2 separate regions of the Homo sapiens genome follow, and region 2 is linked to region 1. Evidence: fine-mapped QTL for protein levels in blood plasma. A gene starts in region 1. The other region holds a variant in brackets. All regions are shown on one strand. Distances are between the middles of the regions.

Region 1 (3,780 bases):
CCAAACTTTGTGATGCTATTTATTGTCTCTATAGAGCCCACTTAGTGTGAATATTTTTGTATTTTTATATTTTATGGAGAAATATTAGTAAGACAATAGTATAAGTGATATGGTTTCTAAAGTCCTATAGTTCTGAATCTGAAGTAAGCCATTAAGATGAAGAATTACTTGCAATTATTTCCTGTAATACATGTTCTATTTTATGTCCATATTTATGTAGGGCTAAACTAGATTTTCCTTCCTTTTTAAAATAATTTATTGTACAAACATTCTGTATATAAATCTATAAAAGATACTGAAGAACATGCATTCCTCAAGAAGTAGAACATGGGGTATGTAAATAAAAATTATTCAAAGCTTAGGATTAGCAAAAAGAGATCACTGGAGTAAATGCTCAATGGATTCCTGGGCATTTTCTAGCAGGCCCTCTGGAGATGATCTCTGACTGACTTTATTTAAAGTTCTTTTAGAACTCTTTAAGCATAGAGGTTAATTTGCAGTAAATTTATAGGAATGCAAATGACTCTTATCTGAGAACAATGCAAATGATTCCTGGTTATAGTAGAGCAAATATATTTTGTCCATTTTGTTTTAATTACTTTCCACCAGGTAGAAAAGCTAATTGCAAATATTACAGTTTGTTACTCTGTAGGATATTAACCAGTTTTGTATCTATTGGAAAGGTCACTTCAGAATGCTTTTGACTGACTGACTATATGCATTCCTATTCCTCAAATTCTTCTTTGAACCAGTTGTAGCATCTGAATGTTTCCTCATTAATTAATGAGTTGAATTAAATCTTTGATATATATTCATCTTATATTTACTTGTGTCATATTTTTAACTTTTTGAAAATCATGTCTTAGAGGGTGCTTACACTATAGGAATTTGCATATTAGTTAAGAAAAGATAAGACATAAAAAATCATAAGGCAGCATGTGATAAATGGCAAGTGATCATATGGATTTTGGGGGCTGTGGTAGAGTTTCTGGATGACAGTTTTTTTCATTTATTTCTGCATTACTTTCATTCATTTAACAGACAACTGCTTTGCAATATGAAGCACCGTGGAAGGGAATACAAATACAAATCAGACACAAACCCTGTCCTGGAGTTAGCAGTTTCCTGTGGGAATAAAGGGGAGGAAAAAAACACCTTTCCTCTACCATATTGTATTCAGTGGCTGGGACCTGCAAATTAGACTAAGACAGATTAACAGGAGAGAAAATTCTATTTATACATGTAACTTGAGTACATGTGGGAAAACTCAGTGATAAGTAATTCAAAAAGTTGGTTAGAATTGGGGCTTATACATCATCTTAATAGGTGAAGGTGGGGAGAAGAAAGGCACTTACAAGAAAACAGATTATTGGCCGGGTGCGGTGGCTCATGCCTATAATCCCAGCACTTTGGGAGGCCAAGGCGGGTGGATCATTTGAGGTCAGGAGTTCAAGACCAGTTTGGCCAACATGGTGAAACCCCATCTCTACTAAAAATACAAAAATTAGCCAGGCGTGGTAGCGCATGCCTGTAATCTCAGCTACTCGGGAGACTGAGGCACAAGAATGGCCTGAACCTGGCAGGTGGAGGTTGCAGTGAGCCAAGATCATGCCAAGACACCATCTCAAACAAAAAAGAAAACAGATTATTTTTTGGAAAGGCAAGTGGGTTTTCAGGGGAAAAGTAGGAAATTAGAAAGTTTTGTGATAATGTTTGTGTATATAAGTACGAGTGTTCTTTCTGTCTCCTTCAAGGCCATGAAATTTCTCTGGAGAAGGAATTTGAAATATGTTTTACTCATGCTCTCCCCTCCAGGATAGACCTACCCTGAAAAGGAATTTATGGCAACCTTATCTCCAAGGTTGCTGCCTTTAGTCAGATAAGGAAAGCCCCCAAAATCTCTGTTCCTTTCCATATCACTGAATCTCAAATATCTTCAGCTTAAAAGAATCTTAACGCCAAATATTTGGGGGTGGCATATCCTGATTCCTTTCAGGAGAAAGACATAGATTAATCATCACAAACAGTAGTAATGGATGGAGAAGAGAAGAACATTTGCAACCTTACTGTGTCCTTAATGCTTTATTATTCTATTAAAACCTGAAATTTTGTAGGAATTTTTCCCCAGTTTCATAATTACAGCACAGAGAACCAACCAAGGGTTATAGTAGTCACAAGCAAGATGATATGGGATCCCTCAAAACAATTTTACATGCCTTAATTCCTGAGACCAAAGCATTCTCCTCACCTCTCTCTTTACTCATTTGGTTAACTCTGGACTCAGGCCAAATCCTGTCCCTGGAAGAGCCACAAAGTAGGAAGCCTGGGTACAGGCCTGGCAAGCGAGAACAATGTGTCACTGCAGGACTTTGGAGCTCTCAGCTTTGGAGTCAGTTAAGACCAGTTCCTTGCTGGGAAGCCCTAACTCTGGAGGGACAGAGACAGGTAAGGTTAGTTTACTTCCTTGAGCTTTCGTCTTCAGTGCTGCTTACAGCCTTAGGATATCTGGTATTCAGGAAAGGAGGATGAGGTAGCATTCAAAATTGTGTTCTACCTGGGCAAGAACCAGGGATTGACAGCCCGTTCTCTTTCCCCAGTGCTGGCCAGAGTTACAGAAGTTGGACTGTAAACATTGGCAACTATTGACAGAAGTCAAGGTCATGGCAAGACCATTTGGCCCATGTTTGTTGGGGAAGGATAAGCCTGCGTTTCAAAAAGACTGGTCAACTGGATTTGCATTCCCAGAAACCAGGAAATTTCTGAAACTGAGTTTTAAACCTGGCAACTCTTTTACCATCCCTTTGTATTTTTGCAGTTCCTCCCTATACCAGCTTCCTTACAGCTGTTCTGATTTCCTGTCGTAAGATTTTTTCTTTTCATTTTCTCCAGGGAGGGTAAATCAATATAACCTCTTCTCTAGAGAGGAGGTGGTTAGGTTGGTCTTAAGCAGTGTTAGAAGATCTATTTTTTTTCAAACCAGGTGTCTGAGCTGGGTGAATTCCAGCCTGGGGAGAGGACTTTGATCACCAGATGTTTTTTTGGTGTGCGTGCTGTCTTATGGTTGCGTGGCGAGTTTCTGCTTCAGATGGTACGTATGCTTTCCTTCAACTCAGCTTACAGGCATTTGGTGTCCTTTTGCGGTGTTTTGAGGAACTCTGTCTAGGGCTTTAAGGAAGTTTACATTTATAATATCTTTATTCTTCTATTGAAAAATCTCAAATTGGCCTAATGCTCTGCACTCAATAGGAGCTTAGTGTACATTTAATGATAACCCTGATCTCTGAAGTGGGTGGTTACTGTTTTTTTACTTTCCCTTTCTGTTCTGGGAGCAAAAAGAGTACCAATTTCAAAATCCTGGGAGGTCTTACTTGTTATAAACTCCAGGATCGCTATTTGTGTAGGGGACTATTTGTTTAGAAGTGGACAACTTGTGGTTGAATTTGAGTAAAATTCCTGTTATACTTTTGAAAATAAAACTTCGGAATTCCGGCCGGGCGCAGCGGCTCAAGCCTGTAATCCCGGCACTTTGAGAGGCCGAGGTGGGCGGATCACGAGGTCAAGAGATCGAGACCATCCTGGCTAAGACAGTGAAACCCCGTCTCTGCTGAAAATACAAAAAATTAGCTGGGCGTGGTGGCGGGTGCCTGTAGTCCCGGCTACTTGGGAGTAGAATACAGAGTACTTGGGAAGAGCACAGGAATCAGGATCAATAATCCAGCAAAAAGACATGAGAATGGGGAAATCTAATAAGGGTTCTCTGACAGCACATGATATGCCAAG
Region 2 (8,543 bases), 41 kb after region 1:
TTGTTCCATGTCCAGGAGACTCTCCAGGGCAGCCGTAGTCTGTGTTAGCTTAGCAACTAGCTCAGCAAGCCAGGTTGCTTTGATCTTATGGCACCTCCATTTCAAAATGTGCCTTCACAGTCTCTTCAGTAGACGAAGAGAGAAAGGCCAATTGTGTCCTGGCTAAGAGCTTTGGCCTGGAAGCAACCACATATCACTTTCCATTACAGCCTTTTGTCTCAAACTAGAGAGTAGCCTCAGAGGACTGGGGAATGTAGCCTTGGTCTGTTCAAGAAGCGGAAATGAAAATATAATTTGCACCTATAAGATGAAACACATATGCCTGTAGGGCAAGCAAAACCTGAGTGCCAGAAGGGCAACAGGACAAAGCAAGTGATAATTGAGTCAAAAGATATGTTAGTTAGTGTGCTAGTCTAAGGAATCTTACTTTATATTACTAAGTTTACACAGTATTGCTTACTAACCCACCACAGGACACAATCAGACGAGGGGCACAAAAGAGCAGGATACTGCCAACAGTGCAAAATGCCTGGAGTTAGATCTGCAACAAGTGAAAGCGGCAATAGCTGAGGGCAGAAAAGTGGGCAGGGGCCAGGTTATGAAGGGCCTTGTGTTTCAGTCTCAGGCATTCAGAACAATCATGGAGGGGAGACTTTGAAAGGCTTTAACAAGGGGAATAAATGTGCTGCATTTTAGAAAGATAACTCTGGCTGTGGGACAACAACCTGAAGTGGGACAAAACTTAACTGACAGTCACCTGCTATGGCTTGAATGTGCATCTCCAAACTCATGATAAAACCTAAGACCCAATGTGATCGTTTTAACAGGTGGAACTTTTGGGGAAGTGATTAAGTCATGAGGGATCCACCCTCATGAATGGGATTAGTGCCCTTATAAAAGAGGTTGAAGGGAGAGCGCTAGTCTCTTTTGCCCTTCTGTCTTGTGAGGACAGAGCTTTCATCCCTTCCCCCATGTGAGGACGCAGCAAGAAGGCACCATCTTGAAAGGGGAGAGCAAGCAGACATTGAATCTGATGGTGGCTAGATCTTGAGCTTCCCAGCCTCCAGAACTGTGAGAAAGAAATTTCCATAATTTATAAACTAGTGAAAGTATTTTGTTATAGCAGCAGGAACAGACTAAGACAGCACCTGTGCAACCCTCCAGCCAAAAACTGAAGGTGGCTTCAGCGGTAGCATGGCAGTGGGGCTGGACAGAAGTTAAGGGATTGTAGAGGAATTAAAGTAGCAGAATTGCCAGGACTGGATGACTGCCAGGATGTGGGTGAGGGGTGTGAGATAGGGGGCGGCTTGTTTTCTGCTTGTCGGGGCATGGGTCTCTGATCCCCTGGGCTGCCTCTGCACTATGTAATTACCATGGGCCACGGACCCATAACCAAAATCATCTAGGAAATTAGGCCATTATACTGAAAGTTTTGGGGGCCTTGGAAATATGTTTCTGCTGGGTTATGTATGACTGATTTTTATTGGTAGGGAAGTTGGAGGAGCTATCCACAGTCATCTCGAAGAAGGACCAATGTAATGAAAACTCATTTTAAAAGCTGAAATTATATATTTTATATATATACACACACATACATATGTGTATATATAAATATATATTATATCAAATATAAAAATATATAATATATAATACTATTGGTATAGTGTTATATATTCTATAAGACTATATTATAGAATATATAAAATATATAATAAGTATCATTAACATAATATAAATAATTTCAGCTTTTAAAAGCCTCAGTAAAATGAGTTTCCATTACATTGGTCTTTCTATGAGGTAATTGTGGATAACTTCTTCAACTTCTCCACCAATAAAAACTAGTACTGAAAGGATTACATATATATATATATTATATATACAGATATATATGTATGCGTTTGTGTATGTGTATTCACTTTAAAATGTTTCCCTTGTATCTACTTGACATGCACATTCAACAGGCATTTGTGTTGCACTTGTAACTGGATTAGCAGTGGCAGTAATATCCTTATTACCATCTATCTTTTAAAATCCACTTGTCTTTTCTCATGATTCTTTAGAAATCACCTGTCGCAAGCCAGATGTTTCACATGGGGAAATGGTCTCTGGATTTGGACCCATCTATAATTACAAAGACACTATTGTGTTTAAGTGCCAAAAAGGTTTTGTTCTCAGAGGCAGCAGTGTAATTCATTGTGATGCTGATAGCAAATGGAATCCTTCTCCTCCTGCTTGTGAGCCCAGTAAGTATGGACTGTGACAGAATTTCAATGTTTGGCATCTAAAGGTACCCCGTACTGTTAATACGGGTATACTTGCATGCATAGGCCTACTATGAATTACAGTAAAAATTTACATCTAGATCAATAATTTCCTTTATTTTTTTCTTGTTGGAAAGAAGAATGATTTTAGTGCACTCTGCAAGGTCATATATTGTCACACAAAACTGCCACATACCACAAGACTGTGCACATTCCAACCTTAAAGGGAGGTGTTAACATTGTAGATACTATGGATTTGTATATTTATTTCAATAATTTTATGGAATTTGATAGAAAATTGTCTTATTCTAACAAAATCATTATATTATTATAATTACTTTGAAAGACAAATAATAAATTGTCCTGAGGAAAAATGCCTTTTATAACTTGTACAAAAGTATTGTGTGAACTGGTTATGATTCCAACACTCTGAAGTTATAAACTCGTGGATTATTAAAAATAATGACAATAGTAATAATGATAACTTGGCACTAGACTAGGTGCATAACAAGGATTAACTCAACAAATCCTCCCAACAATTGTGGGCACTATGATTATCCTTATGTTACAGATGAGAAACTGTTCACAGAGGTTAAAAGACTTGCTCAAGGTTATACAACTGGTAAGAGAAGGAAGCCACTGATGCCTTGTGCTCTAAGTTTTGCCCTCACGAAATGTCAAGAACTTCTGGGGATTTCTGGAGCAGTGGTGGAGGAGTTTGGGGAAACCTCTCTCCTGAAGAGGTATCCACCAAGCTGGTCAAAATTAGCAAAGAAAACCATTCAAAGTCTCTGGAGAGTGATCAAAGGGATTACAACAAACCGAGAAGCATTTATTCAGCAAAAATATGGAGACTTGATAGGAACAGTGGGAGGACATTGCATTAGAACTAGGGGCTGCAACAGCTCTACCTTGCGGGAGGATGTTTTCTGTGGGCTCATCCCACAAGTGGCAATTCCCATCTTCTCCAGCTCCCTGGGGTAAAAAAGTTATTTGGGGTGGATTTGGCAGCCAGTGAAAATTACATGACAGTATTTTTCAAAGATCCATGCTGTGGAAGTCGAATATTGAATCGGTGCCAGCAAACATGCATCAGTGTCTGTTCCTTCACCCCCAACTCCGATTATATGGGGAGGATCTAAGTGGGGCAGCTGGTAAGAAGTCAGTCCCCCCTTTTTCATGGCTCTATGTTGCACGAGAACTATTCCAGTTGGCTCAGCAGCCAAGTGGCATCTCCCATCTTCCCCAGCTTCCTAGAATGGAAGAACTATTATGGGTAGGTTGACAGCTATGAATATTGGCAGTTATTATTCTCCCCAGCTCTGCGCTGTGGAATATGTGTACTTGGTGGTGGGCGCAGCTGGGTGGCAGTGCCAGTTCCTACTTCCCCCTTTTCTCTTCTCACAGCTCCTACACCATAAGAAGAACTCTAGTGCAGTGCCTGGGAAAGAATGAGTTTTCTAATTTCCCCCAGCTCCTGATCTATAGGACAGACATTCTTCCAGGGCAGATTTGGAGCAAGCTT[C/T]AAAGACTGTAAACACTCTGCCCCTTTCAAGGAACTTTAATTGGATTAGACTGTGAAGCATATTATGCCCCAGGGAGTTGCTGAAAAAAGTAGAACAATCAGATAAAGATTGCTGGAGGCCAATGGTTGTATGTAATACCAACAGAGGTAGACCACCCAAAGTCTCAATGAGAAAGAGACAGTCAAAGAGAAAACCACAGTTATCTCTGGCAGTTAAAAAGACTGTGTACATGCCCAAGTCTGTGCTGTCTGAGGCATGCTGTTAGATGTTGCACACTTTGAAGGAAACAGACTTAACTGAACTAGTCCAATTATGTCACTAAACAAACAAGAAAATGAGGAAACAACAACAGATCCCAAAGGTGGTAAGGGAGAATCAATATCCAAAGTTGCTGCAATGTATTATCTAACATGTTCTGTTTTCAAAAAAAAAATTGTCAGATGTGCAAAGAAACAGGAAAGAGTGACCCATGTAAAGGGAAAAAGCCAACAATAGAAACTGTTTTTGAGGGAGCCCAGAGAATGGACTTAGCAGGAAAGTTCAAAGAATCACAAAGCAGCTATTATAAATATGTCCCAAGAACTAAAGGAAACAATATTTAAAGAATTAAGTAAATGTATTATGACAGTTTTATCAAATAGAAAATATTGATAAAGATAGAAATTATTTTAAAAAGAAATGGAAATTCTAGAGTTGAAAAACACAGTAAGTAAAATGAAAAATTCAAAAGAGGAACTCAACAGTAGATTTGAGTTGGAAAAAGAATCAGTGAATTTGAAGATAAATTGAGATTATGCAATTTGAAGCACAGAGATGAAAAGAATGAGGAAAAATAAATGGCATCAGAGAAATGTGGGACACCATTAAGTGTACCAACATATGTATAATGAGAGTCCCAGAAAGATGAGAGAAAGAGAAAGGAGATAAAAACCTATACAAAGGAAAAATGGCTGAAAATATCACAAATTTGACCAAAAAAAAAAAAAACCCAAACAAAAGAACAAAACAACACATTAATCTACATATCCAAGAAGCTTGTTGAACTCAAGTAGGATATTGCAAAAAGGTCTAGACCTTGAGACATTATAATCAAAATGTTGAAAACCAAGAATGAAGAGAAAATCTTGAAAGCAGCAAGAGAAGAGCAACGCATCATGTACAATGTAACCCCAGTAAGATTAACATCTGATTCCTTATCAGAAAGAATGGAGGCTAGAAAGCAGCTAGATGACACATTCAAAGTGCAGAAAGATAAAAACCTCAACCAAGAATCCAACAACATATTTTGCACTTACATATATTACAAACTGCACAATAAATTTTTATAATTATTGTTTTATATAATTTCATGTTTCATGTCTTTTATAGTAGCTGAGAGAAGAAAGGAGGGCAAGTATATATTTAGAGAGTTTATTATGTTAATCTTCTTATTCTTCATTTCTGGCGCTCTTTATTTCTTCCTGTAGATTCAAGTTACCATCTGGTGTCATTTCTGTACTATAATACAGCTTTGTTCCCTCCTACCTTTCTTGTGATGTTATTGTCAAATATATTGCATTTCTGTATGTTATAGGCTTAATAATGCAATTATATACATATTGTTTTATGCAATTGCTGTTTAAATCAGCTAAGAGAAGGAAGGAGTAGTAATATATATTATACTGTGGTTCAAATTACTGACATAATGACCTCTGCTGATGCTCATTGTTTTACTGTGTGGATTCAAATTACCGTCTGGTGTCAATTGCTTTCAGTCTGAACAATTTCCTTTAGCATTTCTTGTAAGGATAGCCTTCTAGTAACAATCAGATACCACTTCACATCCAGCAGAATGGCTGTAATAAAAAAGATAGACAATAACAAATGTTGGTGAGGATGTGGAAAAATTAGAACTCTCATACACTGCTAATAGGAATGTAAATTGGTGCAACCATTTTGGAAAAGAGTTTTTGCAGTCCTGCTGAAGTTTAACCATGGAGTTACCATATGACTCTAATTACCCTCCTGGGTATCTACCCAAGATAAATGAAAACATATGTCCACACACAAAAATTTTACATGAAGATTCATAGCAGCATTATTCATAATAGCCAAACAACCCAAATGCCCATCAAATGAATAATGAATAAACAAAAAGTGGTTTATCCATAAAATAGATTATATCATTTGGCAATAAAAATGAAAAATAAAAAGTACTAATGTATGCTACAACATGGATGAACCTTGAAAATATTATGCTAACTGAAATAAGCCAGTCACAAAAAGTACATGTATTGTGTGATTCCATTTATTTAAAATGCTCAGATTAGGCAAATCCATAAAGAAAAAAATAGATTAGTGGTTGTCAGGACCTAGGGGGAGGTGGAAATAGGGAGTGACTGATAATGAATATGAGGTTTCTTCTTGGGTTGATAAAAATATTCTGAAATTAGTTAATGGTGATGGTTGCACAACTCTGTATATACTAAAAACCATTGAATTGCACATTCTAAATGGGTGAATTTATTTGTTGTGACTTTAATCTGAATAATGCTGTTAAAAAAGAACTTTTATATTCCATTTCAATAATCATCCAACGTGGTAGATGTTTGCATTATATTTTCATATCATATGAATCAGTAGCATTGGGAAAGAGAGAAGAGGACAAGATCCAAGGCCCAGGCTCAAAAAATGTTTGGAGCTTGGTTTTTTTCTTGCCAAGTCATTCCTGGTATCATCTGGATGAGGGGAACGGCTCCTGTTTATTTTCCCCAATCAATCAGTAAACATAGTTAGATTTGTTTGTGACAGTTTTCCTGCCATGCTTCAGTTCAGAAACTAAAATCTCTGAAATGTAAAGAAGAGGAATGAGAATTAAAATTATTATACTTGGCACAGCACATGGAAACCACTTGGGAGTGCCCTTAGTGAAGAGCCTCTCTGGAGGTGTGCACATTTGAGCGAATGTCCATGTGTGTTTTCTGGTGTGGTTGATACATCAGGCCTTGCAGGCTGGTTCCAGGCTGAATGAACGTATGACCCCCTTTGATAGGACAGGCTTATTGACTGCTGTGGCAGCCCTAGTAATAGCGTCCTTTTGTTCTTCTTCTTCTTCTTTCATGAGTAGATAGTTGTATTAATTTACCAGACATTCCACATGCTTCCTGGGAAACATATCCTAGGCCGACAAAAGAGGATGTGTATGTTGTTGGGACTGTGTTAAGGTACCGCTGTCATCCTGGCTACAAACCCACTACAGATGAGCCTACGACTGTGATTTGTCAGAAAAATTTGAGATGGACCCCATACCAAGGATGTGAGGGTGAGTTTTTGTTTTTTAATATTTTTGTATATTAAATGTCCAGTATGTGCTAGGATTCTCTACCTTAAATGAATATAATTTTATCCCTCACAACAAGTTTAGAATTAAGTTAATTCAACAGATTAGTAAACTGTTAGTGCCAGAAGGGGACCATAAACATGTTACAGTTTGAGGCACTGAGAAATTGTAACCTTTCCTTATCCCAGTTCAGAATCAAATGAGAAGTAGACACAGAAGTCAAACATTATGCAGATTATGTATTAGTTTTCTTACTGGTAAAACTAGAATGGAGAATACAGCTCAACTATTGTCAGAGTCAGGCTTCCTTCATAGCCCTTACCTCCCCAGTATGGGCTTTGGGGTGTTTGGCAGAAGACAAGTTTGTGAAACAGTCATGAGCGTAACCAGCTGCAGGGTGACTTGTGTCTCATGTCTCTTGAACCATGAGATGGCAGGGCTTCCTGATCTGCCTCTAGAAGACAAATCCTGACTCGTGACTGAGCATTCTCACTTCGTAAGGATAGAAAGGAGACTTCCTCCAGTTTCTCTGGTAGGAGACGCACCTCTTTTATTTGTGGAAATGAGTGAGGGACTGAACGACAAGTGGATACTATATTATGAGCCTCAGTGGAACAGACAAGAGAGGAAGAAAATGCTTTCTTCTATCCATCTATCAGAACCTTGCCACTTTAGAGGTGAAGACACTGAGGCCAAGAATACAGGGAATTTTATGCTGCATATCAGAATTTCAACAATCTGTGAAATGCATAAATAATGAAAAGTGGTAGTTTAGATCAACCTGTCAGAAGATTACTTATTTCATATTAAGACTTAACAAAGTTTAATTGCAGTTATTCAGACTCATTTTGGGGAAATAGAATAAAAGATTTTAATAAAAGGACTGAATTAAAAATATACTTAATAAAACTTACCGCCATTACTTAAATAACAAAAAGTATTGCTTATAAATGTTTAAAAACCTCCTTTATAGTTGTATTTAGGCTAGGTGCGGTGGCTCCTACCTATAATCCCAGTACTTTGGGAGGCTGAGGCGGGAGGATTGCTTGAGCCCACGAGTTTGAGACCAGCCTGGGCAATAGAGTGAGACCCTTGTCTCTACAAATAATTTAAAAAATTAGCGGGATGTGGTGGCACACGTCTGTAATCCCAGCTACTCAGGACGCTGAGGTAGGAGGATAACTTGAGGCTAAGAGGCCAAAGCTGCAGTGAGCCGAGATCATGCCACTGCATTCCAGCCTGGATGACAGAGCAGGACCCAGTTGTTTACATTTATTTGATCCCCTATGATCTTATTGATTTAATTATTTAATAAAGAATATTTTTAACCATTTTAAAAGCAGAAGTGAAGTAGTATTTATCCAAGTTATGAAACCTGATCAAATGTGAATTTAGACTCATGACTTACATATTTAAAAGTATTTTCTGCACTGCAAA

Direction of the effects. Alleles are on the strand shown, and positions count from the first base shown. The strength of an association depends on the size of the effect and on how common the allele is.
For the plasma level of the protein whose gene starts at base 2,359 in region 1, allele C in region 2 goes with a lower level than allele T (weak association).

Evidence for each region. A credible set is the group of variants that fine-mapping cannot tell apart. PIP is the posterior inclusion probability: the model's chance that the variant is causal. The UK Biobank Pharma Proteomics Project read protein levels with antibody pairs (Olink). The fine-mapping took linkage between variants from a reference panel, not from the people measured, so its PIPs are less certain.
Region 2: its variant is the best candidate, but not a certain one, in a credible set for the plasma level of the C4BPB protein (UK Biobank, PIP 0.55).

The regions. Positions count from the first base shown.
Region 1 is chr1:207,086,502-207,090,281 of GRCh38, forward strand. C4BPB (complement component 4 binding protein beta) reads left to right here and starts at 2,359. Exons shown (of 7, transcript NM_001017365.3): 1 at 2,359-2,445; 2 at 2,981-3,088. The coding sequence starts at 3,031.
Region 2 is chr1:207,124,653-207,133,195 of GRCh38, forward strand. C4BPA (complement component 4 binding protein alpha) reads left to right here. Exons shown (of 12, transcript NM_000715.4): 7 at 2,061-2,243; 8 at 6,894-7,088. LOC107985251 (a long non-coding RNA gene) reads right to left here. Exons shown (of 3, transcript XR_007066838.1): 3 at 2,358-5,622. Among named protein-coding and RNA genes, the nearest start is that of C4BPA, 25 kb to the left of the region's middle. The variant C/T (reference allele first, on the strand shown) is at 3,787.